Homo sapiens: one gene and its partner. The protein of the gene in region 1 interacts with the protein of each later gene in a pairwise test. Each region holds a gene or a part of one and is shown on either strand. Other genes may lie near its edges. The genes, in order: RXRA and JAZF1.

The links.
Region 2: the proteins of RXRA (region 1) and JAZF1 interact in a two-hybrid assay, tested with the Homo sapiens proteins (one study listed by BioGRID).

Annotation. Positions count from the first base shown.
Region 1 is NC_000009.12:134,329,231-134,333,044, forward strand, and holds part of RXRA (retinoic acid receptor RXR-alpha), read left to right. Parts: intron 1-3,814. UniProt on the Homo sapiens protein: Receptor for retinoic acid that acts as a transcription factor.
Region 2 is NC_000007.14:28,170,659-28,174,472, reverse strand, and holds part of JAZF1 (juxtaposed with another zinc finger protein 1), read left to right. Parts: intron 1-3,814. UniProt on the Homo sapiens protein: Acts as a transcriptional corepressor of orphan nuclear receptor NR2C2. Inhibits expression of the gluconeogenesis enzyme PCK2 through inhibition of NR2C2 activity.

The DNA of each region.
Region 1 (3,814 bases):
CATCAGAGCCCTTGGGACCCAAAATAGAGCACATTCCGGGGCCTCCCGAAATAACAGGGTCATGTGACTCTCAGGAGGCTGGGCTTGGAGTCCCGCTCGGGCCTGACGAGGGCGTCTTTTAGCGCGGGCGCTGCCCGACGGCAGGGTGTTTGTTTTGGTAAACTCTGGAGGGGCCCTGTTTGTTGACTGGGGAGGTGTCAGGGAGAGAAAAATGGCCCAGTCCGATGGTGGCCCTGGCTTGCTAGCCTCCAACCTTGCCTAGGGCTGGCTGCTGGGCCTGGACCCGAGCATGCAGCTGTGACCCTCTGCCCAGATGTGGATGGGACGAGCTGGGCCCCTAGGAAGGGCTGGTGGGGGGCGGGTGCTCTGAGTCCCTTGGGGTGTGGGGTGCAGGTTGAGCCGGCAGCCCTGGTCACGCGGGCAGCTGCTGTGACTGGCTCCCGGCTCTGCCAGCACCTGGTGGTTCTTCCAGCTGTGCCTGTCCTTCAGGGCCTGTGGGGGGCTCACCTCCACCAGGAGGCCCCTCTGACTGCCCTCTCTTGGCCCCTGCCCCATCTCCCCCGTGGCTGTGTGGGAGGTCGCTGTCAGTGGTCTTTGTTTCCTCCCCTGGGAAAGGGTGCCTGCAGGATTTGCTGTGGAATTACTGTGGGAACAGGGGGTACTCAGGGGTGTGCCCCTCTGCCCCTGGGGCCTGGTCGTGCATGTGGCAGGGGGCTCTGGCATCAGGAGAGGGTGGGACAGACCTCAGCTGCATGGAAGGTGGTGTGGGGGCGGGGTGAAAGCTTTACAGGTCCACCCAGTGCCAGTGGAGGCTGCCTGGGGAGTTTCCTTTCTTGGGTGACGTTTGGTTTTGCCATGGGTCAAATGTTTCAGGGCTGGGACCTCGAGTGGTGAGCAATGCCTGTCCTCTGGAGAAGAGGGCACAGCTGTCCCAGCAGACACAGGGCAGAGGCCCTCCCCAACCCCCAGCTGGCTCAGGGCTGGGACACTGTCCCTGGGACCCGGGCTTTGCAAGCCAAGACCTGCCCCTCCTTCCCTTCTCTGCCAGGCTTGAGTTTGTGTTTTTTAGCTGGCTTTGGTGGCCAGGGCCTTGGGTTGGCCTGTTAACTGGTGTGTTTTCATAGGAATTGGCCATTTGCTGGGCTAGGGATGAGGCTGGGGTCTAGGGCCACAAGGGCCTGGGGGGCTGGCCTGTGGCTGTTGGGGGCTGGTGTCCATTTGGGGGTCACCTTCCAGACCTTTGTCCTGAGATTCTTAAGCTGATCAGTTTCAGGGTGCTATGGTGTGGGTAGAGGGGTCACCCTCCTCCCCCCTGCACCTTGCCCACCTGCCTGTATGTTTCCATTTTATAGGGTGCAGCTCTGTCTTTCATCCTTCCTTCCTCTCCTCTGCCCCCTCCCATTCAGGGCCTTTGTTACCTGCAGGATGGAGGTGGTGGTGGTTTTGCAGGGATCAGCACCTTCCCAGGAAGAGGTTCTGACAGGTGGTGTCCCATTGCTGGGCGGGTGGTCAGGCCACCTGGGGTTGGGCCTTCTGTCCTCGCTGCCTGCCTGGTCTGCTCTTTGGCCTCTTGGGGCTTTGGCTGTCCATCTGAAAAATGGACATACTCATTGGCTCTTCCAAATGCTGGAGAAGGCAGCCTGGTGTGTTGTAGGCTGGCTGGGAGTTTGGGGAGTCTGTTTGTGGGGCGTTTCCCCTATCCTGTGGCTAGGTCCTCTCTGTGCCTCCTGCCTGGGTCAGGTGGGGCCAGGTTTCCAGCACTGGACCAGAACAGGCCATGATGGTCGCTGGGGGCTGTCAGGTGTAGAGGAACAGACTCAGGAATAGAGGACATCGGGGACACTGAGGTAGCCCTTTCTGTGGATATAGGCCTGCCACAGGAGAGCGCTCGCTGCTGCTGGGTCCTTGGGACCAGCCCCTGTGCCACTCCAGGGACCCTCCTCAGAGTCCCAAGAAGGCAGGTGGGGCGAGGGACCGCGGTTTGCACACCCACCCGAGCCTGGTGCGAGATGTTCTGAGCAGTTGTGCCCCAGCGCCTCACAGACAGGGAAATTGCGCCCTAGAGTTACAAAGCAATTGTCTAGCTCAGCAGCTGAATGAGCGTGAAATGGAGCAGAAAGCAGCTAAGGAAAATTGGCCCGGCCGCTGTGGGGAGAGCGGGTGCGGACCGCGTGCAGGGCTTGGGTGTGTGCACGCTCACTGTTGCACACACACAGAGTCACAGGCTCTCACCTGGCGCTGTTGGCCGCTGGCCCGTGTCCTGGCGTGCCCGTGAGTGAGCCAGGCCTCATGGGGTCCCCCAAGGATCATGGTGCTCCCTGCTGGGTTTGTTGGCCTCCTTTTTTTCTAAATCTCCCCAACTTGTCCAGGACTCACCCTACCCCCACGAAGGTGCCGATGGCTGCAGCGGGTGCCTGCTGCGTGCCAGGGACTTTATTTTTGGGACCTTGTGGAGGTGTCACAGAGACAAGCCCACTTAGTGGATGGGGACACTGAACCCTGGGTGAGGTCTGTGGGCCAGCCTTTGTGTCCCGCTGTGGGGCCTGCTTTTTCTCCGGCACTTGACTGGCGGGGGCCGCCTTGAGCTCCAGCTGGGAGGACCTGTCCCCAGGGTGGGGGCTCTGCTGCCCCTGGTCCTCCTGCCTCTCAGCATCCTCAGAGGCTGCTCACCGACCAGGCTGGGTCTATGCCCCATGCTGGTTCCCAGGAGCCCCATTGCTGGTCTTGGCCCGAGTGAGTGAGGTTTTTGTTCAGTGGGGACCCTGGTGGAGGGCTGAGGTCTCACCATGCCAGCTCTGTGCCCTGGGACTGGGCATCTTGGCCTCTTGTGCTGGTTGAAGGCCCTCTAAGGAGTGGCGACCCCTTGATCCTCACTCCAGGGTTGTCCTTGGCTTGGGGTGGTGGCTAGGAGAAGTCCCCACTCCCAGGTGGAAAGCTGTAGTTGGGTGAGCAGCAGAGGCCCAGCCTGGAACTGTGGCTTGCCCACCTCCTCATGCCACCAGGGCAGCACTGTCTGCAGCAAATTCCTGAGGTACCTGGGGGAGTGGACGGAGTGAGATTGGACCCCCGGGTCCCAGGGCAGGGCAGGGTAGGGGCACAGTTCTTTCTGAGGTCCTAACCCAGCACACGCGGCCCACCCCATGCATGCAGGCGTCCGCCGCAGCCTTCCCAGGGTGACCTGGCAGAGCCTTGACAACCCTGGCTGGGGAGGCGGGGATTGCTGGTGGGCTTGTCCACACGTGGCTTAGGGAGCGCCCGCTGGGTGCTGGCCTGGTCCTGCTGCCTGTGGAGGAGGGGTGGGGGAGGGGTGCCCAGAGGTAGGGACAGCAAGGTCTGGCCTGGAGGGGGTGAAGAGGGTGAGGACGCAAGGGTGGGGTTGCAGGGCTGGAACCAGGAGGGGGTTCACGTGTGAGGTGAGGCTGGGTAGGGCCTGTGTGCCGGGCGTAGGTGCATGGGTGCCCGGAGACTGGGGGATCCCAGTGTGGTGCTCATGGCTGGAATGAGGCCACCAGTGCTGTGCAGAGGGTGGTCTGGAGGCAGCCAGGCAAGGCCTGGAAGGAGGAAGTGACTCTCTCCAGGTGGCTCACTGGTTTCAGGTGGGCCTTGGGGCCCCTGTGAATGGCCTTGCACCCTTGCCCTGGCTGGGCTCCTCAGCATGGCAGCCTGGGAAGGGGGGAGGATTCCTAGCATCTTCCTGGGGGCTTAGGCCAGGTCCCTGGGCTGGCCTGGGGGTCGTCTTTCCCGGGCACGGGTATGGGTGAGGCACCTTTTCCCTGGCCCTGGCTCCGGCCCCCCCTGCACTCCCCAGGCTCTG
Region 2 (3,814 bases), on another chromosome or scaffold:
AACTGACAGCTGTTTTGAGAAAACCCAATTCTTCCCGTAGGTGACAGTGAGGATACCTTAAGGCTGGCACAGGCTGGTGACACTTGATGAGGGGCTTCCCTGGGACTGTTTGGAAGCCAGAGGCCTGGTGTTGTAGACTGAGTCTGAGAGACAGGAGACAATGTTTCTGAATTCCTTAAAAATCCTCCTTTTCTAGTTTTAGCTTCTAGGGCAACAATCATACATACCCCACATTCCCTTATATTTCTCTACCCCATTCTTACCCCCGCCTTCAGATCTTGACAGTACAGACGTGTCCTGTGTACAAAGAAATACTTGCTGGATTGTAGATACTCATTTTGTTTCATGGTGAGGTAATAGATTTATTCCATGTTGACCTGGCTAACGTATTAAGTTGAAAAATGTTATTTATTTAGAATCTGAAGATAGGAAACCATAGATGTCAGAAATTTATTATGTGTGTATTTTTTAAAAGTGCCTTCCATTTAATATATTTAATTGCTGTAAAGAAAATTGTATTTTCCCCTCGCTGTAAGCACTGGAATGTTGCAGTAGTTTTCACCTACTTTTTTTTTTTTTTTTTTTTTTTTTTAAAGCTAGCTGCAAGCAGGGACCAGATTAGTGGATATCCTCTTTAAGGGTGAAGTCTTTCCAATTGCTGTCAACTTTGGCAGGAGTCAGAGGGACTCTTCTTGGGTCACTAACAATAGACTGTCTGCCCAGCACCAGAGAGCACTGATAGTCCCCTGACGGCCATTGTCCCTTGCCCAGCTCACCCACTGGCCTCCCAAGGAAGCACTGTTCATTGTCTGCCAGACTACAATGGTGACTTTCTCCTGAGATAGACCTCCTTGAAGGGACATGATCTGGATGCCAGGTTAATAACACTGAAAAATTCACCATTTCTTTGGTATTATAGATATAATTGATATATAGAAATAAATATATATTTTAGGCACAAAGGCATGTAGGATATCTAACACATATATAAATAATACATGTATATGTCTAATACACATACCACATATATGTGTGTACGTATATCCATATGTGTGTATATATTTATGTGTGTATATGTATACATTTGTATTATACATTTTTTCCCTCTCTTTCAAGATCACCATGGATAGTGAGGACAGCCACACATTTTTGAGTATTTCCTATGTTAGTGCTTAAGACAGTACTTCCTATCTCTAAGGATTTGAAATTTATTTGGAGAGACCAGACATGTACAGACTGAGATAAATAATGAATAATAATAGGGACCACAGAGGCAGATTTATTGTGAAGCTAATGAAGCTCCAGCCCCAGGGCCCCTGACTTGTACAACGCATTCCTTGCCGTTTTTGAATATATTGCCAGGGCCCACCCAGCACTTTCCAGGGCCCTGGAGGAGCCCTAGCAGTATACGTAGCTGGGCCTTCATGGGATCATAACTGGTAAAATTGGAAGAAGATTTTAAGCAATCCTTTAATGTTTTTCTTTCTCATTCTGACTTCCCTGCTGTCACATTTCTGTTTGGGTTTGATGACATTGGACTTGAAAGTGCTTTTGAGATATAGCTAGGGGGAAGTCGAATTGGGTCCACATTTTGTTTGGGTTTAGTGGGATGTATTTATGCAGTTCACAGTCATCTCTGTGTCAAGTTATCCCTAGCCATCCTAGTGTAGAAGTTGCTTCATAGGATCGCCACCCACCGTGCCAGCTTACCTGGGGTCCTTACACAAAGGGGAGGGTCAGAGAGAGAATTGCAGTGTTAACGGGTACCATGACATCTGCTGTGGGATGGTTTATGGTGCGTGGAGCCAGGTCTGTGGAGAATTCTTTCACTTGTTAGATGTGTAAAATTCTACGTGGAGGATTCAGTTCTTATCTAAGTGTAGTCAGTATGAAAATTCTCTTCTTTTAGGAATATACTCAATAATACAAATATACTATTAGAAATGCACCATTTTTAATGGGAATTCTGTGTTTAAGATTCTTGTTCATTTGACATGAATATGCCTGATACCAAAAATACTGACAACAAACTGGTTAATGAGTATCATTGATAAAAAGAATATTTAAAGTTAGTCATTGCACGAGAAAACTTGAAATGTCCTGGATTTTTATGGCTCATATGTGAAAGAAAATTAAGAGATGTGATTACAGGTTTGACAACAATCCTAAAAATGTATATGTCATTGCCAATAAAGAACTATAAGGCTAAAAGTAACTTTTCTGAATTGTCAATAATTAGGAATAAATTTTGATCACCCATGCTTGAGGGGAGATTGATTCATCTTTCTGCCCTGTGGAAAATGATATGAATATAAGTCATTGTGATATGAGGATTCATCAGAGTATACAGCCCAAAAGAAGTATTTATAGCAGTGTGTCAGGAAGTTAATTAATACACATACTGGGTTCTTTTCCTGGATTCTGATTTTAGGATGTTTTGGTATTGCGGCTTGTAAAATTTTGTGATTTGTTGTGATTTCTTAATCTCAATAGATAATCACTTTTGTAAACATTTTATAACATTCAATTTTTTTTCATAAGAAAAGTCTGAATCTGCAGGCCCACAAAACTTGGGTCTATTCCTTGAGCTCCCAATTCGGGAATCATTACTATATGTGCCACAGACAGTGCTAAATAATTTTTGTATAGTATTTCATTGGCCCTCACAGCAAGCCTGTGAAGTAGACATTACCCCCATCCTGTAAGTACTGCCTTCCGCTTTGGAGTTAAATATGCTACCATATTAGTTAAATAACACACTTAGTGAAATATGAACTAGAGTGTTTGTTTATATTGGTATAAAACAGAAATATTTTTCTTCAGGACAGAAAGCCTCTTTTACCTCAATAAATATCATTATTTTAATGGGTCTTCCCCTCTCTGTCCTGTAGCCCCTGCCCACAGCTGCACCAGCGGGGGTGTGCTCTGAACTGTGTGGTCACCTCCTGTGCACTGTTTCCTCCCCCAGAAACTCAGGGTCTTGTCATCATCCTATCCTCGTCCCCAAGACGTGTTTTCAGAAATGGTATGAAAATAAAAATTGAGAAGTACTTTGGGCTGTGAAAAAAATAAATTACAAAGGTAACTTTGGACAGTGAAAAACATCTTTGAAATTAATTTCTGTAGGTTTGCATCAATGAGGGCTGTATATTTATATGTTTATGTGTTTATGGCATTCACACAAATATCCATTATGCAATTAGTCCAGTATGGTTTATATTAAGGGAATCTGAAAGAGACTCTTTTTAAAGCTGATTTAAAAAGGAAATTGATTTTCCTTGTTAAATTGCCAGGGGTATTTGGTACACAGGAGGCAGAGGCCTGGGTGGTGAGAAGCATGGACTGTGAAGCTATACAGAATTGGATTTTGAATCCTCCTGATCTCACTAACTTGAGCTTTTCAAACTTGGGCAGCTCTTACAGTCTTATTTATATGAGATAGTAATACTATTATTTATTATTTGGGGGGATCCCGAGATTGATTTTCCTTTCACAGTACCTACTGGCTAGTTGCTTTAATATGCATTATGCAGTGTTAGTCCCATGCGACGCAGGAGGAAGCCAGGACACAGAGCAAAGAACAGCCAGGAAAATGCCCGGGGTAGCCAGGGCCGGCTTTGCTGCCAGGTGTGCCCATATACTCAGTGCTTGCTCTTTACAGCCTAAGTTGTGATCTTTTACAAGATGTTTGCATTTTCATTGAAGGCTCTTCCGCACCTGAAAGTCTTGGAGAAATAAATACAGAAAGGCTGGATTTCCACCAAGAGCAGTGTCGATGGGAGCAGTATGGATGGTTGATGACATATTTTGATGC